3 separate regions of the Homo sapiens genome follow, and regions 1 and 3 are each linked to region 2. The links come from fine-mapping of genetic effects on gene expression. A gene starts in region 2. Each other region holds a variant in brackets. All regions are shown on one strand. Distances are from middle to middle. Region 1 overlaps LARGE1 (LARGE xylosyl- and glucuronyltransferase 1). Region 2 holds the start of LARGE1 (LARGE xylosyl- and glucuronyltransferase 1). Region 3 holds the start of LOC124905106 (a long non-coding RNA gene).

What was found. PIP is the estimated chance that this variant, and not a neighbour inherited with it, causes the effect. A credible set is the group of variants that fine-mapping cannot tell apart.
Region 1: its variant is the best candidate, but not a certain one, in a credible set for the expression of LARGE1 in atrial appendage (GTEx, PIP 0.80).
Region 3: its variant is the best candidate, but not a certain one, in a credible set for the expression of LARGE1 in whole blood (TOPMed, PIP 0.74).

The regions. Positions count from the first base shown.
Region 1 is chr22:33,560,494-33,570,683 of GRCh38, reverse strand. It overlaps LARGE1 (LARGE xylosyl- and glucuronyltransferase 1), which reads left to right. Exons shown (of 15, transcript NM_133642.5): 6 at 5,665-5,836. Among named protein-coding and RNA genes, the nearest start is that of MIR4764, 130 kb to the right of the region's middle. RefSeq lists a silencer at 747-1,041 and an enhancer at 4,655-4,724. The variant G/A (reference allele first, on the strand shown) is at 4,752.
Region 2 is chr22:33,915,289-33,925,478 of GRCh38, reverse strand. LARGE1 (LARGE xylosyl- and glucuronyltransferase 1) reads left to right here and starts at 5,003. Exons shown (of 15, transcript NM_133642.5): 1 at 5,003-5,484. LARGE1-AS1 (LARGE1 antisense RNA 1) reads right to left here and starts at 4,254. Exons shown (of 2, transcript XR_001755630.2): 1 at 3,956-4,254; 2 at 2,424-3,072. RefSeq lists silencers at 4,136-4,635, 4,956-5,105, 5,376-5,475.
Region 3 is chr22:33,215,453-33,225,642 of GRCh38, reverse strand. LOC124905106 (a long non-coding RNA gene) reads left to right here and starts at 3,858. Exons shown (of 2, transcript XR_007068071.1): 1 at 3,858-4,041. It also overlaps a transcript of LARGE1 not described here. The variant C/T (reference allele first, on the strand shown) is at 3,926.

The DNA.
Region 1 (10,190 bases), 350 kb after region 2:
TTTCAGCTTGTGATTTTTTTTTTTTTTTTTTTTTTTTGAAATGGAGTCTCGCTCCATTGCCAGGCTGGAGTGCAGTGGTGCTACCTTGGCTCACTGCAACCTCTCCCTCCTGGGTTCAAGCGATTCTCCTGCCTCAGCCTCCCGAGTAGCTGGGACTGCAGGAGCACGTCACCATGCCCAACTAATTTTTGTATTTTTAGTAGAGACAGGGTTTCACCATGTTGGCCAGGGTGGTCTCGATATCTTGACCTCATGATCCGCCTGCCTCATTTTTTACAGAAACATAGGACAAGGTGACAAGTGACTTATTTCCCCTGACAAAACCATCTGCATTCCTGACTTCCCCTTTACTTTCAAAGGTACCAGAATTTGCTGCTTTTATCATGCCCCAAATTCTGAGTCATCTGAACTTCGGTATTGCTGACAGGCATTCACTGAGAGGAGAAGTGGGCTTAGAGGAGACCTGTTGCTTGCCCCGCATGAGGCTGGATGCTGTGCCTTCTCCTGTGAATACTATAACATTGTAGGCCCCCATTTTCCAGATGAGAAAACTAAGACTCAAGGAGGTTAAGTGAGTTACCTGAGGTCACACAGCTCATTAAAAGTAGAACCAGTTCTATAGCCCAGGCTTCAGGGCTCAACAAACTATGCCTCTTCTGTTGTTCTGTCCTGACCCTGGATTTTAGCAATCATGAACACTTCTGCTCCTAGGTGAGGAAAATATCAGAGAAAAATGAACTCAGGCCTGGCTGACTCCGTAGTCATGCACATTCATCAAACAGTTTTTGAATAATTACTGTGTTGTTACCACAGTCAAAAAGACATCGTCCCTGCCTCAAGGAGTTTCAGTCAAGTGCAGGAGAGGGGCATGGAAAATTGAACCCAGCAGGATAACATGCTGTGCTGGAGGAAGGGAAACAGCTTGCTTCTTGCTTTGGGAGCCCCTAATCCAGCCTGGGGCTGTGGGGGTGGGGGTGGCTGGAAGGCAGTGATTTCTAAGTTGAGACTTGAAAGAGGGGGAGAATGTGGATGGAGGTGGGGGAAGAGTGCTAGATATCATGCCGTCTCTAAGAGGGTGAGCTATTTGTAATAAATGTACCTGCTTCTTACCACTTGTTCTTTCCCCACCACCAAATTTCTTAATTTTCCACCTTTTCCTGGGGCTTTCTTTCTGAATACAAACTCATCCCATTGCCTCCTTTACAACTAATTGAACACTTGGACTTAATTGATTATGTATTAAGTTGGGGACTTGGAGTGACATTCAGGACTGGGCTCATGTTGAGATTAATTTATTCCTGTAGTCTTCCTGTTTTGCAGTGTAACTGAGTGCCTCACATGTGTGTTAAAAATAAAACGGAGAGTCAGGGCAATCTAATTAGACAGCTTAACCCATCACTCTCGTGTTCAGTCTTCACCCAGCTCTCCTGCTTTGATGGTAACCAAAATAGATGAATAAGTTAATCAAAGGTCTGATTAAATAGCACAGCTCTGCAGCATGGACTAATGATTGCCAAGCCTCAGTTCAGGCAGATTGCTAGAGGAGAGAGGAAGCTGAGCTGAGCTCCAAAGGCCAGGGCTTTCATGAGGAAGATGTTTATAAAGCACATGGGAGGGAATTCCTCACTGAGTCCTCGGATCTTAACGGTGATGGCTCACTCTAAAGGAAGGATAATGTAGTTTGGGGAAAGAACACAAACCTTCTCCTGGCAAATTCTGACTCTTAGAGCTTTGCATCTTGCTGGCTGTGGGATTGTAGACAAATCGCCCGCCTTCCTATGCCTGCCTGCCATCCATCATCCATCCATCCATCCATCCATCCATGCATTCATCCATCCATCCATCCATCTGTTCCAGATATGTGTTTTGTACCTATTATATACAAGGCATTGTGCTTATTTTTTTTTTTTTTTTTTTGAGACTGAGTTTCGCTTTTGTTGCCCAGGCTGGAGTGCAATGGTGCGATCTCTGCTCACCGCAACTTCCGCTTCCTAGGTTCAAGTGATTCTCCTGCCTCAGCCTCCCGAGTAGCTGGGATTACAGACATGCACCACCACACCCGGCTAATTTTGTATTTTTAGTAGAGATGGCATTTCTCCCTGTTGTTCAGGCTGGTCTCGAACTCCCAACCTCAGGGGATCCGCCCACCTCAGCCTCCTAAAGTTCTGGGATTACAGGCGTGAGCCACTGCGCCCAGCCAGGGCATTGTGCTTTGATTTTGTTGTTGTTCATTTAATTTGCCCTTGTGTTAACTGTATGACTCGGTTGTGTGAGGTTTTTCCTTCTAGGTCCTCTCTTGCCGTAACCCTCACTTTATGCTCCATGAGGCTGATGCATAAAGCATCTCTAGTCTCGCTTTCGCTCTGGTTTCCGTTAGGGTTGACTGGAGGGCTGCCCTCCCGGGAGACTGGTGGGCAGGAGGGAAGTGAGGTTGAGATGTTTTTTCCTGTTCTGGCTTATGCGTTGCCACAGGTAGGCTGTGTCCCTCTGCTGAAGGTCACTGCCTCAGCCAGGTGGCCTTACTCAAACAGCAATTCTCTCTGGATTCCAGCATCTGCTGGCCTGGGCCCTTTTGGCCTTGGGGTGGTAATGGCCCCAAGTACTCTTCCCCTCCTCAAGTAACTGCACGGTTCTTGTTACTGCCCCTAATTCTGCATATACTTAGATTAAATAGTCCTTTTATTAAATCTTCCTTAGATTCCCCAGGAGAGTGTGCTGTTTCCACCCACACACTGCCTGATAGGATGAAGTAAGTGTAGCAACATGGATGGAGCTGGAGGCCATTATCCTAAGTGAACTAACTCAGAAGCAGAAAATCAAATATCACATGTTCTCACTTACAGATGGAAGCTAAACAACGGGCATACCTGGATACAAAGCTGGAAATAATAGACACTGGGGTCTCCAAAAGAGGGGAGGGTGAGAGCTGTGTGAGGGGTGAGAAATTGCCTGCTGGATACAGTGTTCAACATTCAGGTGACAGGTATACTGGAAGTCCAGTCTCCACCATTACACAGTGTACCCATGTAACAAAAATGCGTGTGTACCCCCAGAATCTAAAATTAAAAATTTTTTAAAAAAGAAATCATGACCTTTATAAATAGCAGAAACTCAGAAAAGCTGAGCAAACCTGTCCAAGGTGACATGGCGATTAAGTGATGATACTAGAATCTAAATCCAGGCATGCCTGAATCTACCACCCAGGGTGTTTTGCTCTCCTGCATACATCCCACAGACCCTTACCTTCATCTGGAAGCACCAAAAGAGGCACTGATAGCTAAATACATGGAATAAGATAGAGGGATCAGGAAGAAGGGCGGGAGCTTATTACTGAGTATATTTTGTGTACCACGCCCTTGAGTCCTTTAATATAATTTAATTTTTATACCACTGTGTGAAGTAGGCATCGTCTCCATTTTACCAACTTTTAAAAATGAGCAACTACTCTTAAAAAAAAACTAAGTAACCACATTTTTTTCTAACATCATAGTCTAGTGATGGTGGCACACAGGAGGCCAATTTAGGGCAGCTATGAGACAGGTTCCCCATGCTGACTCATGAGACCCATTCCATCTCTGAAACACACTCCATTTTACAGGTAAAGAAACCAAGGCTTAGAGAGATCAAATGCTTTGTGTGGGGCTAGAGCCCAGATTTGAACTTCTGTCCTTTTTCCCCACCTCCATGATGCCTGGGTGTAGGGTGACAGGGACTCATACACAGAGTTGGGGATGCTTTTTTTGAAATTGATGAGAGGTGAAGCCAGCTGGACTTCCTGGGTCAAATGGGGACTTGGAGAACTTTTATGTCTAGCGAAAGGATTGTAAATGCATCAGTTAGCACTCTGTAAAAATGTACCATCAGTGCTCTGTGTCTAGCTAAAGGATTGTAAACACACACCAATCAGCACTTTATAAAATGGACCAATCAGCACTCTGTAAAATGACCAATCAGTGCTCTGTAAAATGGACCAATCAGCAGGATGTGGGCAGGGAGAAATAAGGGAATAAAAGCTGGCCACCCCAGCCAGCAGCGGCATCCCTCTCGGCTTCCCTTCCAAGCTGTGGAAGCTTTGTTCTTTCGCTCTTCACAGTAAATCTTGCTGCTGCTCACTCTTTGGGTCTGCGCCACCTTTAAGAGCTGTGATACTCACCACAAAGGTCCACAGCTTCACTCTTGAAGTCAGCGAGACCAAGAACCCCCCGGAAGGAGCCAGCTCCGCACACAGTTTGATGTCTTGCTGCTATTTTTTTCTTCCTTTGCATAGATTTGGGTGAATGTGTTTCATTTGGTTTGATTACACGTAGTTGTTTTTAAGTAAAAGCAGTTTTAAAGCTTGCTTTTTTCCCCTTTAACATCATATGCAGGTTTTTAGAAATTATATCTTGATCCACATTGTTTTAAACAATTACATAGTATGCTATCAGAAAAACAAGAGTATCATGTTTGAATTAATTGTTCCATTTTGGGGCATTTTGATGGCTGTTCTTTGGTAACATGGTGATGAACATCTTTGGGAATAAAACTTTGGTGTCTAAAACAAAATTTTTAAATTTGAATTTTTTTAAGAACATCTCCTCAACATGGTATTTGTAAGGTCAAAGGAGATCAATATTTTTTGGAATCCTGAGAAGGTGGCCATGTTCCCTGTTTTAAAGGGTTCTATTAAAAGTGTTACCCTCTTGAAAATAAGTGTGCTTTGGCTCCCATGGAAACTCCCCATGGCAGCTAGGTTGGGGCCTCTGCCCACA[G/A]TGATCTTCATAAATGACTGTGCATAGATGAGAGCTTTCATCACACTGGTGCTTTTATTTTTATCCTTGCCTTTGGACACAAAATGGCACCCGTGTGTGTACCTCGCTGATGACTCTGCCCACCTGCAAGCCATTGATTGTTCCATTATGTTATGTGAGGATCATAATGTCAGTGCTCCATGGGTGGTTCATTTCTGTCCTATGTGTGTGTCCTCTATTGCTGTCAGGTGAAGAGTGTCGCGTGATGACTAGGTCCTCCTTGACTAGGAGGTGAAGAGTGTCACGTGATGACTAGGTCCTCCTTCTGTCCTATGTGTGTGTCCTCTATTGCTGTCAGGTGAAGAGTGTCGCGTGATGACTAGGTCCTCTTATTTATCTGAGAATAAAGAGAAGGCAGCAGTAGTAATCTATTCAATTACAGTTTTAAAAGAATAAGCATAAGCTTTAACAATACTACTGCCCACTAATCTTTAATGACACGTAAATGGAATATGATTTAAAGAAATATACGTACATAGGAACAATTTGATACTGGTTGCAAAAGTATTTGTAGTGGGATTCAATTTTTGGACCTTTATGTTTTTGCATATCCTTTTTTTCTCTAGTGGATCTATTTAATTTCTATAATAACAAAAGTTTTATTTAAAAATCTCAACATAGGATTTGCAGTAATAATTATTTCATAACTATTACTTTTCCTCTCCCTTAATTCAGATACATTTTCCTCCAGAAAACTTCACATGTCAAAATGCAAATTATATAAATCTTTAAAAGAAAACTCATTCATTTATTCAACAAATTTTTATTGGATACTTTTTGTGTGCTAGGCACTATTTATAATGTTTAAGCAAAGAATTAATATAGCAATTTTTTTTCCCTTTCTCCAACTCTCTCTCTGCCTTGTTCTGTCTAGTCTGAAGTTTCCTGGATCCCCAATAAACATTACTCTGGGATTTATGGTCTGATGAAGCTTGTCCTGACCAAGACTCTTCCTGCCAACCTGGAGAGAGTCATCGTCCTTGACACGGATATCACCTTTGCCACTGACATTGCAGAGCTGTGGGCTGTGTTCCACAAGTTCAAAGGTAATGGTAGCCCATTCGTTTTTTCCCCGATATCCTTGTAGGTATCAGCATGCCAAGAATAGGGGTTGACTTTTTTAAAAAGGTGAGGTCTCCTCGAATGAGGTCGTGCTAATGCAGTGGGTGAGGAATTACAAATATGGTTCAATATCAACTCTGCTTGGATTTGAAAAATAATAGAGTAAAACAGAAACTTGTTTACATGTCTTTAGTAAATGAAGATGTTTTTAACAGATAAATATCAAATGTGTGTATTTTGTATGCAGATAGCGGAGTGTTCACATACTGGTCGGGACGTGTGTTCATTGGTTTTCTTTTTATCGAAGGATAGTCTAATTGCCAAGAAAGCCTGTGAGGTAGTAGAGATGAGTATTGATTCTAGAGTTTTTGAAAATGTTCATATGGCTTTTGCTTTCATTAACGTTGTGGTTTATCATTTTAAGGAGATGTATGTATTTGGCTTTCTTTACAAGACGTTCTTTCTAGTCTGGTGGGTTTCTTTATAGCTATTATTGTAACTCTCGTCACGGCCTCAAGGTATATGAGAGTACCTAGGGGGAAATTGTGAGCTCAGTAGGTGTACTAACTGTGGCATGGATATGTGAGAGAAGTGGCAGGTTAGCACAAATCTTAGGCTGTTATTTTAATACCCCTCTCCCAGATGTCTTTTTAAAAATTATATTATTTTAAAAATTCTTCTATACTGGATGAGTACAATGAGAAAGAAATTCGACAGTGAAATTTTTAGTTTTATATATTTTTTTAATTGCACGCTAGCCCCTTCTGTGTTTAAAATCCCTTCTGCCATTCCTCTTAGCTCCATATCCTATGAAAGCAAAATACTACTTAATGATTTTAAATCCCAGCATTTTCATAAATCACAGGATATTCCTGTTGGTTTCTGTTTCTATTCATGAACAGAGAGTAAATTTCCTTGCTTGCCCTGGTCACTCCCTGCTTCCTTCTCAGGGCTTCTGAGCTCTGGGCTAATTGAGGAAAGTCTTCACCAAATCATGGGAATGACATTTTGATCCCCGGGACTCTTTCCCTTATCAGGATCAAAATTTACTTTTCTTATTCGTGTCAATAATGACACTAACAATGACATCATTTAGGACAGCTGTTGAAATTGAGTATGGCACAGCTCTCTAATCTTCATAGAACGTGTGGACGTGTCCTTTTGTTTCATAAAGAAAGAAACGGAAGCTTAGAGGGATGCAGGCTTTTCCCAGAGTTGAGATCAGAGTGCCCGTGTCTTGGCTTCCATCCGCTGCTCTTTTCAAGTTCCCCTATCGTGTCTGTTTGTTTTTCTCTTCCTGATCACAGTGAACTCACGAGGGGCAGTTTTTCTATAATTACATGGTGTTTTATTCATTTTCTTATGCTGATGTTGAGTGTTCAGTGATGCATTTCTTCAACTGGCGTTTATCGAATCCCTACTGGGTGTGAAGCAGTGTGACGGGCTCTGCAAATGAGGAGATGAGTAATGAGGGGACAGTGAGAGTTGTCACCTCTCCTAGAGGGGGTTAGAGAAGGTAGCTGGGAAGGTGTCACGGAGGAGCTCCTAATTGTGCTCTGTCTCATCAGATGAGAATGGTGGTCGTATGTACTAGACTCCCACATTTTCCTTTGGGAATAAAGGCCTTATTACGCCAGCTGGTGGGAGCAGTCCCTGCAGCGGGGGCTCTCAGAAAAGGCATCAGCCCTTTTTGCAGTTGCCTCTGTTGAAGTGAGTGGCCATGCCTGTGGCCACACCCCTTCGTGGGACACCCCACATCACGGAATGGCTGATGAACATGAGGTCCTGCAGGATCATCTGCCACACTCGGATACTGCCTCACAGGCTGATTTTCCCCTCTGCCTAGTCCTGCTTTCTCCCCTTCCCTTTCATAGGTGCTGTTCTCAAGAGCTCTCTCTAATAAACCTCTTGTATGCTGACATCCATCTCGGGGTCTTTTTCCAAAGAAACTCAACCCACAGCATATATTTAGAGCTGTAAGTCTCCGTTGGATAAGTATAACCACCATAGTCACCAGAACAGGTCATCAGAGATTGTAGAGCTGTAGCTAGGAAATCACGTTTATTCTCTTGCAGCTTGCAATGGCTATAGTGCTAGTGGCGCTCTGTAGCCAATAACAACGTGAATTGTCATGGTTATTTTAAATACGCTGATATCATCCGTGGAAGGGAAGGCACCAGAGCTCTTGCTGCTCCCATAGCTGGCCCAAGGACTTGATTTGGAGGACTCTCAGATTCAAGGCAGCTCCTGGGGTTGAGTAGGGTATATGGGCCAAGGTCAGGACAGGGACAAGGTAAATTTGAATGCAAGGAGCTGAGTTAATGGGCTGCATTTTATTTGTTCATTCTTTTGTTGGTTTATTTCTAGCATTTGTTAGGCCCCCACTGTGAAGAGGAATAGATTAGATGCTGTTGTTCCCTAAAGCTGTTGAGAACACAGCACCTGCCTTCAAGGAACTCAGAAACAAGGCAGAGTGCATTGCGTTTTTATCTATCACCAGCAAAGGAGTACAAAACATCAGAAGTTTTCCCATGCCCACCCTAATTTTTCTGGAAAAATACAGAGGTGAAAAGAAAATAAGTAAAGCTCATCTCTTCTCCATATGTCCCTATTTTGTATCACTTTTGTATGTGTGTGATTGTTTTTCTAAACCAAACTATTAGAAGCCAGGTCATGGAATAGGAAGAAAGCCTGTTAAGTCAGGCGCATAAATGTAGAATGTTCTGATCCAAGAGAGAGTGTCCTTCATAAAGGCAATTGTCGTTGACATCCTTCACTGTAAACGGTTGGAGTGATGTTGATACAATGTGGCCTGGCTAATTTTTCACTTTTTGAGAACAGCTGGTTGTCTGGGGCTGCAGTGGCTCTTGGTCAGATTGCGCTTGATTCCTTTGTGGCGCTGTGAAAGCCCCTTGTTCCTAAATTCATTACCGGGAGAATTACAAAGAAGCCTTTTTCAGGAGTTAGACCCATCCTCAGCCTCTACCAGAAGAAGCCTCTTAGAGATGTCCCCATCTTCCCTGAGCTCGACTTCAGCTAAGTAGCAGATACCTCCCTCCTATGTCAGCGGTTTGCACCTTTACCCAGCCTGCACCAACAGCTGGAAGATTTTCAGAACCACCAATTCTTAGCAGAAAGAATCAGACATACCATTATTGGCCAGGGTCAGGAGCCACCCATTCGGTCAATATTTACTGAGCTCCTTCTAGGTGCCAAATAGCTTACTGTTGGGACTGTTGCAAGAATAAGACTGTTTGGTGAGCCCGTAGCTACACCGGGGTGCTAGTACCAGAGTGGCTAGCAGCCCTGTCCTAACAGAACATTCAGGGGAGCTGGACATGGGTATGGTATGCTTCTCACGAGATACTTCTGGTATACCTGGCAGGGGTCCCTCACATGGGAAACTTATTTTCATAGGCAGATGTCCTTGCAGCTCTTGTCTGACCTGTGTTCAGTTTACACCTGTCTGACTACCAACTACTCTGCCACTGGGAGCCTGACCTTGTCCTCTCCCTGGCGTACCAGAGAAAACCAGCCTGGGGCAGCCCCTGGTTCTTCAATGGAAGGCGCAAATTCAACACACCATTACAATGGTGGAGCTGGTGAGGAGGCAGGTGGCTAAATGAGTGTTTGTAAAACAGAGGGAAAGCTAACTACCATTTCTTAAGCACGTCTTAGGTTCTAGGCACTGAGCTAGAAGCTTTGCACACTTGAAAGTTAAATAAACTGATGGCTCACGCCTGTAATCCCAGCACTTTGGGAGGCCGAGCCCGGCAGATCACGAGGTCAGGAGATCGAAACCATCCTGGCTAACACGGTGAAACCCCATTTCTACTAAAAATACAAAAAATTAGCTGGGCGTGGTGGCGGACGCCTGTAGTCCCAGCTACTCGGGAGGCTGAGGCAGGAGAATGGCGTGAACCTGGGAGGCAGAGCTTGCAGTAAGCCGAGATGGCGCCACTGCACTCCAGCCTGGGTGACAGAGCAAGACTCTGTCTCAAAAAAAAAAAAAAAGTTAAATAAACTGGGCTCAAGAGAGATTAAATTACTTTTCATGCTCAGAGAGCTATTACATAGTGAAACTGAACCCCAATCCATACGGCTTTGGAGTCTGTGCTCTGTCCACTGACCCAGGAGGCTGTACTGCACTTAGAACGGGTGTGACTGCTGAGTACGTGTCACCTTGGACCCCTGCATGCCTTAGTTTTTACTGCACAAAACACTGGAAATAATATGTGATTGTTGTCATTTGGGGAGGCTGTTGTGAAGGCATAAATAATAAATACACACCCATAATCTGAAGCTTTTGGAAGAAGGCCGTGCTGAATATTCAAGATA
Region 2 (10,190 bases):
GCTTTGCAGGGGCAAGTCTTCTGGAGGTTAATAATGCTATTTTGAGCATACCTGTATCTCGCCTGTTAATGAACATGATGATGTCAGCATAAAATAGTTTCATTCCACAAAGAAAGACTTTATCCCCATTCCCTGTCTCATGTCTCCATTCTGGACTTGCTTGTTTTTACTTAAATTATGTTCAAATCACACTTCCATTAGTGTTAATTTGGTGGCTTTTGCAATGTTTTTTCATTCTTTACCTAACAGGTGATTTCTTCTTTGCTTAGCCCGGATGGAGACATTTGTTTTGTTCAGCAATGTCTTTTGATTATTGGCCTAAATAAAAGAGCAATGTTTCATGCCCGGTGCTTAAATTTTTGCTTGAAGTGTGTCAGGACAGAGCATCTTTGGCAGATATTTATCTAGCATTGGTTTAAGGAAAACTAGGCTTTTTCAAACCTGTGCTATCTGAATGCTGTTTGATTCTTGACTCTCATAAAGGACATCTTAACTTTACCTACTGGTAAGATATGGAAAAAATACTATGTGACTGCTAAGGATCTGGAAGCCATGAAAATTTAATTGCTAGTTAAAAATTTTAGGCAGCTTTCTGTAGGATCAGACCCGACATTTAGATGTTTTGATAAATATAACATTAATTAAGATACTGCAATCCTTCCATACTGGCTAAGTAGCCCTTGGAGTAATCACCCCTCCACTACCACTGGCTGCCATTCCCACTATACCCTGTCTCCTCACCCCTGCTGCAGGAACCACTCCTTCCTCCCAACATCAACACCACCATTTCACCAGAACCCAGCACTAAAGAATAAATGTCTGGCCTAGCAGAAGCCTTCAGGACTCAGCTCTAATGCTAGTGCCCCTGTGGCTGGCTTGACTTCAATTAAGTTGGCAGGTGGGTGCCCTGCTGTACAGGTTGCTTAATCTTTTAAATATCCTCTTTGTGAGAATTCAATCGTCTTGTTATGTAGCTCTTGAAGAATGTGCAAAACATTCAGAAAACAGTCCTCAAATCTTTGAAAGAACGTCCTGTTTGGAATGGCAAACATAATTGTGCCGACTTTGAGACAGTTAAGAGTATTTGGTAACCCTCCTCTCAAGGATACAATATTTCCTTTCTTGGAGGTGAGAAAAGAGTTGAGAAACTAAATTGACTTAGGAGTCAAAATTGGACTCAGGTCATTTATTACATAAAACTAGATTTGCCTCCAAACTTTGCACTATGTTTTTGTTTGTTTGTTTTGAGATGGAGTTTTGCTTTTGTCGCCCAGGCTGGAGTGCGATCTCGGCTCACTGCAACCTCCGCCTCCCCGGTTGAAGCAATTCTCCTGCCTCAGCCTCCTGAGTAGCTGGGATTACAGGCGCCCACCAACACGCCCGGAACATTTTACCATTTTTAGTAGAGTCGGGGTTTCGCCATGTTGGCCAGGCTGGTCTCTAACTTCTGACTTCATGTGATCCGCCCGCCTCAGCCTCCCAAAGTGCTGGGACTACAGTGCACTGTGTTCTTAACGTGCCTTTAGATTCCCCAGTTCCTAATATCAGGCACACAGAAAAACGGAGGTGAGAGTGTTTCCTGGCTTCCTCTTTGAGATGCCTTTAGGGCCCCCTAGTGGCTGCTTTAAGACCTCAGGTTTCTTAGGATTCGGTCTCCTTGACCCTAATAAAAAATAAGAGACCTTTCCGAATCTCTTCAGTGACAGGTACAATAACTGTGTGGAGATAAACAGATAACAGTTGGTTTAGATAGCTCATTTTTTTTTTTCATTTTTCAGTTCTCAGCAAAAGCTGCGCTCATTCTTTACAAATAACAGATATATCACTTTACATATTTTATTCTGCATTCTCATACTATATCGTAGCGGAAATCCTTTTAAGACATTTGTATCTTGGTTGTGTCAAAAGGCTATAATTCCTGGTAACTACATCCTACTTCAGGGTTTCCATGTATATGTATATACATATTTAGTTGCTTGGACTGGGGAGTTGAGGAGCTTTACAATTTTCCAACGTAATACTTTAAACCTGGGGCTTGATGTACTAACCAGAGGACTCAGTATGTGGCACATTTCAGTCTGACAACATTAATATCATTTAGAGCATTAGCTATGCCACTGACTGCAGGCACTTGCAACCTTGATTTGATAAAACAAAGCTTTTCCACATTTAAGGTGCTTATTGACCAATGCAAGTACACTTTGTGAAATCCACTAATAAGGCATTATGTCTTCAACGTGCCTTACTGACCAGCGTGAACATTGCTAGCTCCCACACCATGGTCACATTTTTCTTTCTTAGATTCCATCTAGAGAATGTACTACACTTGAGTCATTATAATGGAGATGTTTCTTTCCCGGAAGCTTATCTTTTAGTTTCTGATGTTATTCAACTATTTCTCCTTCGCTTGTAAATTTCAGGTCTTTTCCTTTCCTCAGTCACGTTACCTTTATTAATATGCTAATGTGCTGTAATAATGCATTTTACACCACTAATGAAGTGAAGCAAAGCAAAACGTAAAAAGAAAGTACAAATTCTCCCTTTAACTTTACCCGGTTCCGGGGAGGGGGTAGGGGTGAGAGAGGAGGAAGAGAGTAGGAAGGAAGGACATTCGGGCGGCAAAAAAATAAAAATGATCCCCTTGTTTTCAGCGCGTTCTGGAACAGAGCTGCACGTCAGAGGAAGAACTGAGCAGCCTTCGAGCTAAAAGACTTGGCATTAAACTTTGACACTTTAATGGTCTCTAGGATATTAGATAGTATTTTTTCATATAATGTTCTTCTCCGACACGGTAATGGCATCAGAAACAGAATCTGCTATGCCTGCCAACGTGCACGGTGAGGCTCATCGCCGCAGAGGTAAGACAGCAGGACCCCAGCTTCGCAGTTAACTTATCCCGAAGCTCCAAAGCAAACGTCTTTTACTTCTTCGCCGGGGACGCTGCTGTACCACCGCTGCCTCCCTTTCGCATTCTGCTGGGCTCGGTCAGCCGCTGAGATTAGGTAAACAGCGCTCCGGAGCCGGGGCAAAGCGGGCGCTGCTGCTGCTGGTGGGGGTCGTTGTTTCACGAGGCTGGAGGGAAGGGGGATGGGAGAAGGGTCCCAGCTCGGTAAAGCCAAAGGCCGAGAGTGTGGTTACCGAGGCGGGAGCCAGGTCCGGAGCCAAGCAGGGGCCAAGCCTCCGAAGCCCTTGCCGCCCCACCCCCCCAGCCCGACCTCGAGGAGTGGGGTCAGCTGGGCAACCCAAGCTCGGCGGCCCTTTCCCGCGCGCCCCCTCCCCAGCCCATCCTTCCCCTGCCCCTTCCAAGAACTAGGGTGGGCTTCCCGCTGCCTCGCTCGAGTCCTGGAGAGCGGAGAGGCGCGCAGAGGGAAGGCAAAGACCCGGCGGCCCGCCCGGCTGGGGAGAGGTGGAGACCCGGGGGGAAGGGGACCCCAGAAGCCCTGGGACCGAGCTGCGGAAAAACCCGGGAGCTGGATCGCGCGCCCGGAGCTCCGGTCTCCGAGTCCGAGTTGTGCAGCTCTCGGCGTCCTCTTTCTCTCCCTGCCTCTCTGCTTTCGCCTCCTCTGGGTCTTCTCTCGAGGGCATCCTCCTTCCATCCATTCTCACACCCCCGCTCCTGTGCCCCGACCCATTTCACCCACTTCTCCTGTGGCTCGGGAGGACTCTCCGTACCCCCACCCTGGTCCCTAGAACTGGGAGGCTGGAAGTCCATTCAAGGGATGTTGCGCGCCGGGTTCTTATGCCAAGAGGGAAAGAGCGAGAATAAAATCAGCAGGGGAGGGGCGTGTTGTGCGTGCATGGGGTGTGTGTTTGGGGTGGAGGAAAAAGAAATGTAGTTTCCTCAGAGGAAGAGGAAGCCTTGGACAGGATTCTTGGATACCGATCCCAGAAAGATGCCGTCAGAGCCCTTCGGCGGGGCTCCTCACAGACTCCGGCTGCCCCACAGCATGCCCACCTCCGAGAGAAGCTGCGACCCGAGGCGGGGAAACTTCCTACTTCTCACGACGGCTGTTTTGTGCAATTTGGGGAGCAGGCTGCATGGTCCTGCAAGCCTGCGAGCCTCTCTACCACGGCAGCTGCGGGCCCGTCCCGCTTCCCTTCCCCCTTTTTCCGCGAGGCACGCCAAGCCCGAGGCGGCCGGGAGCCGCCGGGGTTGGGGGAAGAAGGGCGGGGAGCTCCCAGCTTGCACCCTTTCATCCCGACCCGGCCCGGGATCCCGGCTCCGGGTGTTGCTTCCGCCTGCCTGCCAGCCAGCGAGCTGAAGAAGCACCGGGGCGGAGTCTCGCCGGGGGGCGGAGCCTGTGCGGGGGCGAACTCTCGGTCCGCGCGGCTGCGGCGCTTGCCATTGGCCGGCCGCTCGGTCACGGGGTCGGGGGCGGGCGCCGACGCGGGCGCCGGCCCCGCCCCCGCTCGGAACCCAGCCCCGGCTCGCGGTCCCCCCCGGCTGCACAGACATGACACAGACACACAGTCACTGCAGCTGCTGAGCGAGTCCGGCGCTCTGGGCACGCGGAGGCGGCGGGGCCAGCCCGGAGCCCGGACCCCAGCGCCCGCCCCTGCCGGTTCCCGCGCGGCGGCCCACTCCTGGCCGGGCGCGGGAGGCGGGGATCGCGCGCCGGCTCCGGCCAGCGGCGCCCGGCTGCCCGCGGCGGCTGCAGCGGCCGCCCAGCTCCGAGCGCCGGGCGCTCCGGGAAGCCGGCGCATCTCGGAGGCGGCGGCGGCGGCCAAGGCCGGCGAGCGCTCCCGGCGGCGGGGGCCGCCCGCCTCGGCTCCCCGCACCCACCGCGCCGCGATCCACTCGCCGCGCCTCCGCTCCCGTGACCTTCCCGGGGCGCCTCCCCTAGCCCCGCGCCCCCGGCCCCGCGCCCCAGGCCGGGGCGAGGCCTTTTCCGGCGCTTCTTTCCCGCGGAGCCGCGGGCGGGCGGCGCAGGCCCTGGGGGAGAGCGCGCCGCGGCCGGTTGCAGCCCCCCCCGCGCCGCCGCGTTCGGCGCCCGGCCCGGCCAGTCTGCTCCTGCCCCGCCGCCGCGCCGGAGCCCGGGCGCCCGAAGCTGGGGGCGCGGCCGCGCTCGTCTCGCCGGGCTGTTCGCGGGCAGGCCCTGCCCTGAAGGGACGAATCGGCTTGGAGCGCGGGAGGTGGAGTCGGCCCCGGCGGTCGCTCCCTGGACCCAACCCGAGGCTGACCCAGGCCCCTGCCCATGCGGGGCGCCCCTGGCTCGGAAGAGTCCCCCGGGCCGGGAGCAGCTCCAGGCAGCGGCCCCGGAGGAAGAGGAAGAAGGGACAGTGCTCAGCTTGGGGGACCCGGACCCTCGCCGCGGCATTTGGAGCCGGGGGCAGTCCCGAACTCTGTGCTTGGCACCGCCGCTCCGAGTAGGGCAGCGCCTGCCGGGACCCTGACCCGGACCCCCTGCGCCTCGTAGGCGGCGGCGCCGCCGCGCCACCCTGTTCTTCCGTGTCTCCCTCTGCCTGGCGGCAGTCACGGCCAAGGTAAGAGCCCCGGAGCGCGAGAGTCGCCGCGGGGGCGCCGTGGTGTGTAGCGCCGGACAAGTTCTCCGAACCTGTGGCTGGTACCCCCTGTACTCGGGATGCCGGCGGGGAGGCCGGGCACACCCTCTGCTGCCCCGGCCGGGAGCCCTGGAGAGGCTGGAGGTGGAAGCCCCCAGTCTCCGAAGTCCCCAGGACCCCCTCAGGGCCTGCTCGGCTTCTGGGCACACAGGCTGCTGGCAGGGAGCGAGCCAGGAGGAGTTTCTGGTTAACACCACGAGGGCATGTGACCGATACCCGCACCCCCGGCCCTCTTGTTAGCGGTGAGCACCTGTGGTTCGCGGAGCCTGCCGTGTTTGGAGAGGGCCCTGTTGGGCGGTACGCAACTACCTTTCGTGGTGTGATGCTGTGAATAACTTTTCTTGTTCCTTCTTGCAGACAGTCCTGCGCAATTTGGGGGCGAGCAGCCACAGCTTGCGAGTCCCTCTTTAGGACAGAGTGGTTGGTTGGCATTGCTATCTGTAGGGGGGAAGCCCAGCCAGCATGTCCTTCCTGTTAGTCAAAGCTGCTTGTGAGGAGTGATCAGTGTATAGCTATCCAGACATTCTTGTAAATGTCACTGCTTTTGAAGTTTTGGAGTGAGGACTCCAAAGTTTGTGTATCCTCAAGTTATTTTGTTCATTGCCTTATCCTCTTTTAAATGTTCCTCTTAAGGAACCTCAGTTGTACAAGCCTGTCCTTGCCTGTTTGAAATTTATTAAACCTGTGAGCTTCCCCCAGAACAATCTGATTTTAAATGGGTCACTTCGGAGGGAACAGATTGTCTCTTGCACACTGAATCCATCCCTTGGGTGACCCTGTTTAATGGGGTTGGACTCTTTTTTTTTTTTTTTTTCGTCTCTGTGCTGATGTGCCTCGGTTGAGCAGGTTTCTGCTGAATTCAGAATCCGTGAATTTTGTCACTCAGTCCATTAAAATGATCTCCTGAGGGAGCAAAATAGCAGCTTACATTTTTCGTGAATGTCACTGGAAGTTTTACAGGGTCTTATGTAAGTGCCCAGAGAGAGAGAGAGAGGAGGGAGTGGGGGGAGATCAGGCTCCTGCTTCCTTCAAGGGGAGAAACGGAGGGGGTGGCAGGTGGGGGCGTCCGCCTCCCTGACATGCAGATGCCTTTCTTCTCTGACACAGGTGTGGAGACCTGAAGTGCTTATCATTCCGTGGAGGCAGTCACCTCGGGTTAATTTTTCTTCTCACTTCTCCTGTCTTCCCACCTCAGGAGTCAGCTTTGATAGACTTAAGATAAGGAAAGCTTCTAAATTAAGAAGGGAACAAGTGGTGGTTGTTTCTTCTCCCATCCCTCACAAATGGGTGACATGAATGAATTACTCACTGGCACGCTTGGTCCTCCCTAGGGGTAAAAATAAAAGAAATAAAAACGCCAGCTTTAAGATTTCACACATCTCTTAGTGTACCTTTATTGTTCAAGAGTACTTTAGTGAAAATTGCTTGTGGAGAACACATTTATCGAGCCTGTCCCTGTTAATTCCATACCAGGAAGAAAACTCACTCGAACAGAGAGGCAAAAATCACCAAGATTTAGAGGTTAGTGGGTTTTCAAGAGTGGCGAGGAAAGGAATCAAATCCCCCTGGCAGGAGAGAGAGGTTTTTAACGGGAAGATCGGATTGCTCTGGAGTGAGCAGTAGCTGCTGACAAGTGTGGGCCCTCCTGCTTCACTTAATGAAGTGTGCTGGGGTGTGGATTAACTTTTTGATGTGAGCCAATGCAGATTCCTTTGGCTTTTAAACCATACCTGGAAGGGCCTTAGAAATGAAATGAAAGGTTTTTTTCATCTCATCATAGGTCTCGGAAGTGCTTCCATCTCTTGGGAAGGTTGTGACGAAGGTTTCCTTTGTTTCTGGGTTCCTGAGCTGCGCTTTAAAGTTGATGCACAGTGCAGGGAGGGTGCGTCCTGTAGTGTCGCCATCCTTCAGCCACCTACAGTAGCAGGACACTAGGGGGGACTAGTTATCTTTTCCACCATCGAAGAAGAAAACACCAGGGCCCATGTTACTGTGGTTTATCTTGAGGGTTCATGAGCCTGTGGTTTATGTTGAGGGTTCGTGAGACTGTGGTTTATCTTGAGGGTTCCTGAGATGAACTTTTTGGGATCTAGTACATGCTTGCACTAGTGAGTGGATTCTGAGTGCCTAAGGGATGGGCCTGCTCACATCTAAATTGTCATTTGGACAACTCAGAACCAGTTAACTGCAAAATGTTATGTGACATTCTGAAAAGACTCAGTTATAATCTCTAAGTATTTAAGGACTACAAAAAGGCTCTATCCTTTGAATATTAGACCATCCTAACTTTAAGTTCCCTAACAGTTTGTAATCAACACTTTTGGTGTTTGGTTTTTGACTGCATATTCCCTGCAGTCATCATAAAATCACATGGCTTCAAAATGTCTCTGCAGTGGACTCCATCAAACTTAAAATTCCCCTTAAAAATACATTCCGTATACTTAGAGATGTTAACATAACATTTGACGGTGTAGTTGCACTTCCACCTCAGACGCTGTCTGCACTTTTAATAGTATGAAATCATTAATGTCCACAGCCCTTCCAGCAGAATTGGAAGATAATTCTACTTCCCTGAAGAACACTGACTGCCCCATTGCCTAGGTTTACCCAAGTAGCTAAGTCTTATCAAAGCTGATCCCAGAGGTGGGAGTAGCGGGGAGACAGGAAAGATGCAAGGTAGAGGCCAAGAAGAGCCTGCTTAGTTTAGAATACTGTCACAAAAACAGGCAGATATCACCAAGATGTTGGTCACACTGGATTCTAAAAGGCCCAGTTCAGCATGTAGAGTTAGACTCTGTTTGAAACCTGTGAACCCACCTGAGTTATTACTTTTCCCTTGAACTCTGGGGTCTGGTAGACGGCATTTGTGACCCTTTACCCATACGTGTAGTGCACATTTAGGTAGTTGAAGGGGAGCTATTGTTGTGGTCTAGGAAAAATGGTCAGCAGACAGCTTTATTTCTAACATTAAGACTTTATAGATTGATTCTCTTGGGCACAGTACAGCCAAGGGGTAAGAGATTGGAACAGGAAAATACCATCGCATTTGCCATTGAGCACCAACGATTGAAGACCGATCCTGTGGAGAATATATGCTGTCATCCTGAGACATGAATGAAGTCTTATGAATTTGATGGAAGCCAGGTGGCAGAAGTAGAGGCAGGAGGCTGGCCTTCCTTACGGTCCGTGAACAAGATGAAGGTGTCTTTTTGGCTAGAGATTCTCAGAAAGGAGGAGCATACTGCATTGGGGGTGGGGGATATAAGACCCAAAAGGCTGAGAGCTCTAGACACCCTGCCACTGACACACCTCGGGGATACAGCCACCTTGGAAAATCTGCTTAGTGTTGGTGAGGTCGCTCTACATGGAGTATTTGCCATTGAGAGGTGTTCAGCATTTCTCTGTCACATTGGCGTATGGAGAGTAGCAGGCAGCAACGAGTGAAAGGCTTCGTTAAATGTATTTTATAAGACTTTTCATCTTTTCGTTTAACAAATAATAATAGACCATCTACCCTGTGGCAGGTGCCATGCTCTGTGTGGAGGTTACAGAGTCAGGTTACATTTAGCTTCTAGTCTTTTATGGGAGGCAGACATTCAGCTATTTGTTTGTTTGTTTGTTTTTTCTTTTTTTTTTGAGATGGAGTCTTGCTCTGTCAGCCAGGCTAGAGTGCAGTGGCATGATCTTAGCTCACTGCAACCTCCGCCTCCCGGGTTCAAGCAATTCTCCTGCCTCAGCCTCCCGAGTAGCTGGGATTACAGGCGCCCGCCCCCACGCCCGGCTAATTTTTGTATTTTTAGTAGAGGCGGGGTTTCACCATCTTCGCCAGGCTGGTCTAGAACTCCTGACCTTGTGATCCACCTGTCTCGGCCTCCCAAAGTGCTGGGATTACAGGTGTGAGCCACCGTGCCCGGGCCAGACATTCAACTATTATTACCAGGTAAGTACTATCCTGCAGACTTGTTCAAGGGATGAGTTTGAACTTCCCAGGAGAGTAGGGAGGAAGGGGATCACAGGCAGAAAGAACAGCATGGAAACCCTAAAGTATCTATTGTGGTGTGTATGGAGAATAGTCATAGTTAGTGTGGCTGGAAGGTGGGATGTGCCCGAAGAGGGAAACGCGGTGTTAGAAGAGAAATAATTTAATAAGATTCCATGCTGAGGACTGTGCCCCCGCTTCTTGCTCTGTGTATTCAAATAGTGGCAAGAATGGTTGCGAGATAAAATCTGAGCATGCTAACTGGTTATCCCACATTGTTATTAAAAACAGAAAATTTTTTCTTTTGTCCGTTATCATTCTACGTACAGCATTTTGCCTATTCTTTAAAAAACTATTAGCAATGCAAATAAAGAAAGGGTCCCTTATCAACCCTAAGTCTGCCCTCTTGTGTACATGAATTACACCTGGCACTTTCATTATGTCATTATGCAGCAGTGGGAAAAATGACAATGTTACTTGACAAATGATATAATATGAAAAAAAAAACACTTAGGTGAGAACAAATTCCATTTTATCAGATATGCTCTGGGTAGAGTTATGGTTGTGTTTAACACCTGAACAAGATTCATATTATGATCATTTCAGTTCTAGTCTAAACTTCCTTTGCTGTTAGAAAAGAAAGAGTTTT
Region 3 (10,190 bases), 700 kb after region 2:
AAACCCCCATGACACAAGTTTACCTGTATAACAAACCTGCACATGTACCCCTGAACCTAAGATAAAAGTTTAAAAAAAGAAAGAAAATAAAGAAATAAAAAGAAAAAAAGAGAAATGCCTGGAAAATGCCCTGGCCTTCCAGCAAGCTGTAGGATGAGTGCTTATATTATCTGATTATTTAAAAATAAAGACTTAACTCTGAACATCTGTAGAATATGGGCATCCAATGTTTATTCTTAAAGCAGCTAGCACAGTGCCCAGCACATTGTAAATGCTCAATCATTGATCTCCTTACTTTTCTTTTGTATCCTTTGTGAACTAAGGTCCTCCCAAGGCACCCAGAACTAGTGCCGAGAGGGCAGTGGCTTCCTTGTGTCCTGCTCCCAGGCCCAGAACAGCCTCAACCGCTTTGCCAAGCAGACCGTCCTACCTTGCCTCTCCTGGTTGGTCTCTATCATGCCCACGGCTGTAGCACCCAGGGACACCTCTTCCCTGACATCAGAGTAGATGTGGAAAAGCAGTGTCTTCTGTTGGCATGCTGAGCAGAGGCTTTCTCAATGAGCCATTTGACATCCCTGACAGCCCATGCCAGAGGAACCTTCATCCAGAAAATGTGGAGTATAGAATTACCTGGGTTTCCAGTCAGCGACCTGGCAGGTGCTTGCCTACCCAGCAGGGTCTGTGCTCACCTAAGCATTTCCTGCAAAAGAAGAAAAATCAATCTCTTTTCCCTTGTCCTCCAAACAAATGACTTTGAATAATTGTTCTGATTCAGTTCCTCTGGCTGACAGGCCTGGCTCTGTCTTCTTCTGACAGGGGCTGACATCCTGTGAGCCTGTGTCCTGCCTCTCCTTGTTCTTCTAGACACCAGCATCTTTTTGTCCTGTTGCTAACAAGTGTGACACTCTGTGCTGCCTTTGACAAGGCATGCAGGTTGGGATGAGATGCATTATTCAGCTGGCACCAGGGAGCTTGTTGGATCTCGGTTTAGGTCACGGTGGACCCGAGTCCTAGGCCCACACTACTCAAAGTGTGATATGTGCACAACAGGTAATAGATGATATGGTTTTCCATGGTACTTGGACTGAACACTTTACTGTAGTAGAAAGACACCTGTTTTCTCTTAGAATATAGAGCTTCTCCTTAGGTTAGGTTTTTTACTCAAATCACTTGAGGCAAAAAGTGAGTCAATTTAAAGGAGATAATAGCGCTGGCACAATATGGGTATGGAAAAAGTCATGAAGGCAATCTATGAACAAATACCATGTAGGCAAATTTGACTCAGGGAGGAAGCTGAGCTGTCTAGTCATACAGGGCATTTATCCAGCACTTTTTGAGCACCTTCTTTTTTTTTCTTTTTTCTTTTCTTTTTCTTTTGAGACAGAGTCTTGCTCTGTCACCCAGGCTGGAGTGCAGTGGCGCGATCTCGGCTCACTGCAAGCTCTGCCTCCCAGGTTCACACCATTCTCCTGCCTCAGCCTCCCGAGTAGCTGGAACAACAGGTGCCCACCACCACGCCCAGCTAATTTTTGGATTTCACTGCATTAGCTAGGATGGTCTCGATCTCCTGATCTGCCAGTCTCGGCCTCCCAAAGTTCTGGGATTACAAGCGTGAGCCACCGCGCCCATCCTGAGCACTTTCTATGTGCCCCTCACTGTGCTAGGCTGTTGCAGAGCTGGGGGCATAGAGGTGGCTGTGAGCATACGAGGATGCCGACCAATGGTGGGGCTGGGTGAGCATTTGTGAATTGTTTGGGATTGACTGACTGTCCTATAGCAAAAACAAGCTGCAGGGCCAGGTGCTTTGTGACTCTAAGCGGAAGGGTCTGGTACCAGACCTAAAGTAAGATAATGTCAAAGGCTGGTCCAGGCAGAACTTGACATTTTTAGATAAGTGTATAACAAGTACGGTTCCTTGAGTCTAAACCGAGTCATTGACATGCAAGCCTAATCCAGTAGGTGACCTCTGAGGGGCTGAATTGCATGAGGGCTGCTTCTGTTGAACGAGGGAGAGAGAAATGTGGCATATGAGTATCACCTTTTTCCCTAATATGGTATAAGAACCATCACTTACTGACCACAGGACAGATTGGGCACCACACAACACTGGAGGGCGTCATTCTCATCTTAGGCATTGCTTGCACCTGAATTGTGGCGATTCCAGGCAGATGAAAGTAAACTCTCTGGTTCTATCCCAATCAGCCTACTATAACCATTTTCTAGTAGATGGAAGTAAAGTATCTTGAAGAAAAGGTGCCTATAGCAAATGCACAGGCCAATCCCTGAAATGCCCAATTGGCAGGCACCACGTGAGGTATCACGGTTTTTTTAAATCTGGATGTTGCCTACCATCAAATTCTTGGCTCATTTTCTGCTCAAGCTTCTGCCTTGCCCCTTTGACTTATTTCAAGGCTTTAGGAAGCGAACGAATAACAGTCTACTTTCTCCACCTGAGAGGCCAAAGAATCAGGCAGATAGAGATGAAACTATCACCGTTATTATGAATGATACTGGAGTAAAGTGGGTCAGCCTGTTGGAAAGCGATCTTGCTAACTAACCCTGAATAAGGCACGTTTATTCATCCAGCTGCTGGCACAACTTCACACCCATGCGTCTCCCCTGATAGGGGCAGGCTCTTTACAACACGTAAGCGAGCAGGTGAGAAAAAGGGTGCAGGTAGGCAGACCCCATTTAGGGGAGACTGGGGGGGCCTGCAACTCTGTAGTTTAAGTCATGTTGCTCCCTCTGGGGAAAAAGTCCAGGAACATTACTCAAATGGAGGCCCCTCTAGGTGTGAATGAGGTACCCTAGGGTTGCGGTAACAAATTGCCAAAAAACCAGGTGCCAAAACCAACAGGTATTTATTCTATTGCAGTCTGGAGGCCAAAAGTCCCAAATCAAAGTGTGGGCAAGACCATGATCCCCTTGAAGGCTCTACTCCTTGCCTCTTCCAGTTTCTGGTGGCTCTAGGGTTCCTGGGCTTGTGGCTGCTCATTCCAGTTTCTGCCTCTGTCTTCACATGGTCTTCTCCTCCTGTGTGTGAGTCTCCTCTTCCGACTCTTACAACATCACTTGCTATTGGACTGAGAGCTTACCCGGATAATCGAGGATAATGTCATCTCGAGGTCCTTAACTTAATTACATTGCAAAGACCTTTTCTCCAAAGAAGGTCACATTTGCACATTTTGGGAATTAGGATATAGACATATTTTTTGTGGGGGGGCACCATTCAACATGCTGCAATATGAAAACATGAAGAATGGAGGATAAATGCTCTCCCCCAAGGCCCTTCTTTCTCAGCAGTGCAGACCCCAGGCTCATGCTGGTAACCCTCCCTTCTAGACCCCTCACCCCTAACCCTGGCTGTCTCTCCTGTTGGAGCACTCAGGTGCAGCACCCTGGAGGCACAGAAAGGTCCTACGCAGTGGTGACCACCAACTTCTCTGCCCTTTTTCTTTTTTCTTAGATGTATTTTAAGTATCGTGTTCGAAATGATTCCTTGGTGAGTCCTTCCCTTGTCACCCAACCCACATGCTGGCTAGAGCTAAGGCTTTAGTGGAAATAGAGAGAAATTACATTTTAATGCTCCAGAAAGAGGTAGGAAGGAAAAGAGAGGGAGGGAGAAAAATGGCAAAGAGCCAGCAGAATTAAGTGGAACAAGCTGAGGGGCCAGTGAAAATGTTTAGTTGATATGTAGCCCGCCCATAGATATTTTAAGAAGGGGGAGGACTGTGGTGTTCTTATTGCTGTCATATAAACCTCCTTTCCCTTTTAAAATCTTTAGTAAAGACTTTAGTGTTCACAGATGATTGGTGGGGCTGGTTCCTATTTGGTGAGTGGAGGTTTCAGGAAGTTTCATATCTGGGTCAACCCAAAGCCCAGAAAAGAGGCAGTCCACAATGAGTCAGTATCCAGGAAGTAGAGG[C/T]GGGAATGGAAAAGGAAGATTCCAAGAATTTTCAAAAACACAAGAAAAGAGCTTTGGACTTCCACAGGCCATGGACTGGGGAGAGGTATAAGCCGATATAAATCCATCTTTTGGGGGTAAGGAGATATCCATCTAAAAGCTGGGTTACATTTTTTCTAGTCGTTTTTCCTCAGTTATTGAAATAAATGCAAATTTCCTTTGATGACTCAACATTTGCTTGATTTTTAAATTCCAGAATAGTGACCTTGAAGATGTATACCCAGTTTTAAATAACTTGCATCTTTTTAATGCTAAGAAGCAGCAAAATTTTTGACTTAAAACTATGTCCCAACCTTTACTCAGCAGGTGGTCCCTTGCAGAAGAATATCAGGATTGGCAGGAGAGAGAGAATTGAGATACGGAAAAAAACCGGCACAGGCATTTCCCCTCGATGTTTGTAATTGACCTTGCTAGAGATGTACACAGCACTAAATTTGTAATCAGAATCGTGTGTGGAAATAGCCTTTTGCTTAATTCCTTTGTGTTATTCCCTCTCTCTCTCTCTCTCTTTTTAACAACGGCAAGGTATTAAGCTGAAGATAGAAGGACATTATAATTTTATAAGTTTCTTAATGATAGGAGGATGTCTGCTTTTGCCGTCAGGTGTGTCTGGGGAGGGTGTGCTGAGGGGGAAACCCAGGAATCTTCCTGTGGGGGTCCCACAGGAATCTTCCCTGACCTTCCAGTTTCTCAGGGCCTCATTCCTGTGGGAGTGAGAAAGAGAGGGAGGAATGGGGAAATCAGAGCCCAGAATCCTTGCTCTAACCATGCAAGGCCGAATCTCTGTCCCCTGCATAGCAAGGGATTACATGCAACTGTTTATCCGAGAGAGTGCACATGAAGGATTCAGCTGAAAGCTCTTCCAGGAGATGGTAGGAGAGGGAGGAGGGCAGCCAGCATGGGCTGATAAAGGTACAAGATTCAGAGATTGATTCCTTTTCTGTGCTGCATCCTCTGTTGAACACACCAGACTCCCAGTAGTCAATGGGCAGCTTCAGCGCCGTGCTCAGGCAATTTAAAACTTTCTAAGATTATCCCTCAATACCTGTTCCAGGCTCAGAGGAGAGAAGAAACAGGGTCACTGACAATTTTTATGGATCAGGAAAGTGAAAAGCTGACGTACAAGCTTTCTTCAAATGAAAAAGGAGGGAGGTAGAATCTATTTTTTTCCCCTTTCACTCCACCCTGTTCTTTTATCTGTCTCTATATTCACTCTGCTCTTTCCCCCTCGTATGCTGACTCTCCATTTCCCTCTGTCTTTAGTCTTTTTGCTTGTTTATTTTTCTGTTCTTCTTTGATTTTTTTCACGTTTTAAACAACTGCTAAAGCAAAAACCAAAGCTGACAAAACAGCAAACATATATTGTTTTATTACCTAGCCTCCGAGCTTCTAACAGTATGAGCATAATATCTCTCCCTAGAGAGATGGTCATTTTGAGAAAATGGCTTGAGCTGGCAGCAAACTCAGTAAATTTCATTCCTCCTGAGCTGTGCGTGACCTCACAAATCCAAAGGTGACCTTTCTTTGTCCTCTTCCATTAAGATAGGTTAGCGGTTCTCACAGGAGCCCTCTGCAGCGGAATTCAGGATTGAATCAAATTCACCATCCGTTGTATTATCCCAGCAGTTATCAGCCCTTGTAGAATGCTACAACAAAAATCAAGGTTAGAGTGGACTTTTATGAGAAAGTATTTTTCTTTTCTTTTCTTTTTTTCTCTCTTCTCAGGACTAAGGCTGTGTGAGGGGAGGATTCCAGGTCCTTTATGAGAGAAATTGTTGGGAACAAACTGTCCCTTGTGACAGTGGGGGAGTTTGACCTTCATTGTTGCTCTCCATTTCAAACTAATTACCTGCTCCGTGGGCAGGCTGGGCAATAAATCCACCAGGCATGGCGTCTGAGTTCTGGCAGCTTCAAAGTGAGGCTTCAGCATCATGAATAGTAGAGGGTCACTTCTGGCAATGGTTGAACACCTTTCTGACTCAAGAATGAATCCTGAGGGATGCTGTCCAATAGGATTTAAGGAATCAGCACTGGATTTAGGATCCAGAAGAGATGGAAAGTTTGGGGTCCCTTTCCACAGAAATGCCCTATTGGCTCACACTTTTGTTCATTCACCTATGCAATGCTGCCTGATCTCCTATTCTCTGTAAAACACTGTGCTGAATATTAGGAAGGAGACAATATCATTCATAGAAAAGTTTCTCAATATTTAGCGTACACCAGGTTCTCCTGGGAAGATTGTTAACAAGGCAGATTTTTGTCACAAATACCAAAGATTTTAATTTGGAAAATCTGGAGTGAGGTCCCATGTCTACATGTTTTACAGGCAGCTTTGTAATCCTTGTAGAAATGACCTTTGACTGACACGATGAGAGACACTGGCTTCGTGGTGAAAAGTGCAGGCTTCTGATCTTATAGATATGGATTCATACCAATCACAGCCTCTAAAATAAGCTTTTCTCAGTCTGAAGCCTAGTTCCACCCCTTGGTAGCTGTTTGAATTAGTTAAGATAATGCCAGCTGCTGTATAAACTCCCCAATTTCAGTGCCTCAATACATTTGTTTCTCATGTAGGTGGTGCTTCCAGGTGGATATTCCTGGTTGATTGGTGTAGTCAGAGAGATTCAAGAGCCTTTCTTTACGGTGGGCTCCTTAGAGTTCTCTGCATCCAGATAGCAGATAAAGGCGGAAGTGGGGAAAGGCACAACTGATTCTTAAATACCTTCACTTGGAATGGACACACATCACTTCCACTTGGATTCTATTGCTGAGAACTAGTCACAGGTCCTGCCTGGATGCCAGGTGGCTGGGGAATAGTCATGTTAGGTTCCGCTTCCATGCAACCACTCTATATTATGGCAATGAAACAATACATTTTGCCAGACCACAGCCTTCTCTGCCACATTGTGTAAACTTGGCTGAGTCTCTAAATCTCACTGTCCTTATCTGTAAAATGGAGCTAACACTGCCTACCTCATCAGGTTGATAAAAGGATCATATGAGCAAATAAATATAGTACTATATGTACAGTGCCTGGCACACAGTAGGCACCCAATACATTTTAGCTCTTAGTTATGAATTCTGTCCCAAGGAGATCATGGCATGTACAGACAACAAGGTAGTCAGATGTGAGTACCACGAAAAAGGAGAAGCTAGAGTGTTATGGGGATTTGGAAGAGGGAAGAGACCACTTGCAAATACTGAAATCAGGGAAGACTTCAAAGAATTGACCTATGAACTGGGTTTTGGAGGATGAATAGTATTTGTGCATGCAAGGTATGAGATAAGGGCATTCCAAGCAAAAACAATGGTATGCATATAGGCATGGCAGAGAGAAAGGACAAAAAATATGCAGAGGATGTTTAATATGGTTGGAATATATAGGTGAGTGATGGTGACTTAAATGTCAGAAAAATGAAGTATTCAAGAAGATAATTAAGAAGTTATGGGGCCCAGCATGGTGGCTCATGCCTGTAATCCCAGCACTTTGGGAGGCCGAGGTGGGAGGATCTCCTGAGGTTAGGACTTCGAGACAAGCCTGGCCAACATGATGAAATCCCACCTCTACTAAAAATACACAGATTAGCTGGGCATGGTGGCAGGCACCTGTAATCCCAGCTGCTTGGGAGGCTGAGGCAGGAGAATCACTTGAACCTGGGAGGCAGAGGCTACAGTGAGCCAAGATTGTACCACTCCACTCCAGCCTGGGCGACAGAGTGAGACTCCATCTAAAAAAAAAAGAAAAAAAAAGTTATGATAAGGCCAGTTGCAGTGGCTCACACCTGTAATACCAGCACTTTGAAAGGCTAAGTAGGGGAGGATCACTTGAGGCCAGGAGTTCAAGACCAGCCTGGGCAACACAGTGAGATCCTGGTTAAGATGGTAAATTTCATGTTATATGTTTTTTAAACCATTATTCCTATTATAAGGAATAATACAGTAAATTATTTAAGGAATACCATATTATCAATATAGTTGAAGTCCTCTGTATACTCCTGCAAACTATATATCCTATTCATTTCCCTCCCAGAGGCAACCATCAGCCTGAACTTAGTATTTATCGTTCCCATGCATTTCTGTTTCATTTTACTACTTCACATGTATGCATTCATGGGCAATATAATAATATAGTGAATATTTAAACATTTTCTATAATGGTGTCATATGAATGTATTATCATGCACCTGACTTTCTGCCCCACATTATGTTTGGGAGACTAATCTGTGCTGCCATAGCTCAACTTCAGTGGTTCTCAAACTTTAGTGTGCACTAAAATTGCCTGGAGGGCTTGGTAATACACAGATTGCTGAGCTCAACCCCCAGAGTTTCTGCAGTTGGACTACGTAAGGACCTGAGAATGAATATTTATCATAAGTTCCTAGACGATGCCAATGCTATCAGTCCTGGAGAACTACTGCTCGTTATTTTTTTTTTTTTTTTGCTGTTAGATATTGTTAACTACCTATCATAATTTATTTATTCACTCTACTGTTGATAGATATTTAGGTTGCTTCCAGATTCTTTTGTATGATGCTATGAATATTGTGTACATGTGGGAGAGCTTCATTTGCATAGAAAAGTCTTGTCCAGTTCTATCCATCCTTGTTGATTAGCCTTCATGAAAGAGTCCCCATTGTTCCACATTCTTGCCAACCCTAAGTACTGTCCGACGTTTTAACTTTTGCCAATCTTAGAAGGGTGAAATGCTTATTGTTGTTTTCATCTACGTTTTCCTATTAATGAGACTGAGCACCTGCAGCAAATGCTCCATTTTCCTTGCCTTACCTGAGTTTGCCTCTAGCTCCCACATGTCCAAGCCCTATGCTGGCTTCCCACTGCAGTCTCCTGCATGTATCTTTCTTCTTTTCTGCCTGAGGGCTTTACCCAGCAGATGGGATAGCTCCTCTGTGGGACAGTGTGGGGTCATGTGCTACATGGTATCTCAAGAGAGTATCACTGGGGCTTTACTCTGTTGCCCTCCATGGTGAAATGATCATTAATTCTTGTTTGTTTTTGTTTTGCTTTCTACAATCCTTGTCTTACTGTCCCTATTTTCTTTTCTTTTCTTTTTTTTTTTTTTTGAGATGGAGTGTCACGCTGTCGCCCACTGCAAGCTCCGCCTCCTGGGTTCACACCATTCTTCTGCCTCAGTCTCCCAAGTAGCTGGGACTACAGGCACCCGCCACCAAGCCTGGCTTATTTTTTTGTATTTGCAGTAGAGATGGGGTTTCACTGTGTTAGCCAGGATGGTCTCGATCTCCTGACCTTGTGATCTACCTGCCTCGGCCTCCCTAAGTGCTGGGATTACAGGCGTGAGCCACCACGCCCAGCCCCCCAAGCCCTTTTTAATCCACTCAAGAGAGTGGGATAGCTCTCACTAGGTCCCACCTCCCAACACTGTTGATTTGGCACAAGAATTTGTGGGGGAGGGCACATTCAGACCATAGCATGTGGTATTATTAGTGCAGGAACTGGCAAACAGAACAATGGTGCAGAATAAAAAGAGAACTAGACCCAGGCACATATGGACATTTAGCACGTGACAGAGCTAGTATTGAAGAACAATGCAGGAAGGAAGGAGTATTCTGTAAAAGGCATCGAGACAACTGATTATCTATATGGAAAAAAATAAAATTGGATCCTTTCCTTCCACTAAATAAATACCAATTCCAGCTGAATTAGAAATCTCAATTTTAGAAACAGATGAATAATTTTTTTCTTTTGAGATGGAGTTTTGCTCTTTCACCCAGGCTGGAGTGAAGTGGTATGATCTCGGCTCACTGCAACCTCTGCCTCCCAAATTCAACTGATTCTCCTGCCTCAGCCTCCTGAGTAGCTGGGATTACAGGCATGCGCCACCACACCTGGCTAATCTTTGTATTTTTAGTAGAGACGGGATTTCGACATGTTGGCCAGCTGGTCTCAAACTCCTGACCTCAGGTGATCCACTTGTCTCGGCCTCCCAAAGTGCTAGGATTAAAGGCGTGAGCCACCACGCCCAGCCTTAAACAGACGAGGAATATTTCTATGACTTCAAGAATGATGTCTTAAGGGAAAAAAAAGCACACACACAAATCATAAAGGAGATTATTGACAGTTTCTCCTACATTGCATTTGAAATTTCTACTCATCAGGGACACCATTGAAAAGTGGAAAGATAATCACAAACTGGGATAAAATATTCTCTCTCTACATAAATAATTAAGGTCAATATTTAGTATATACA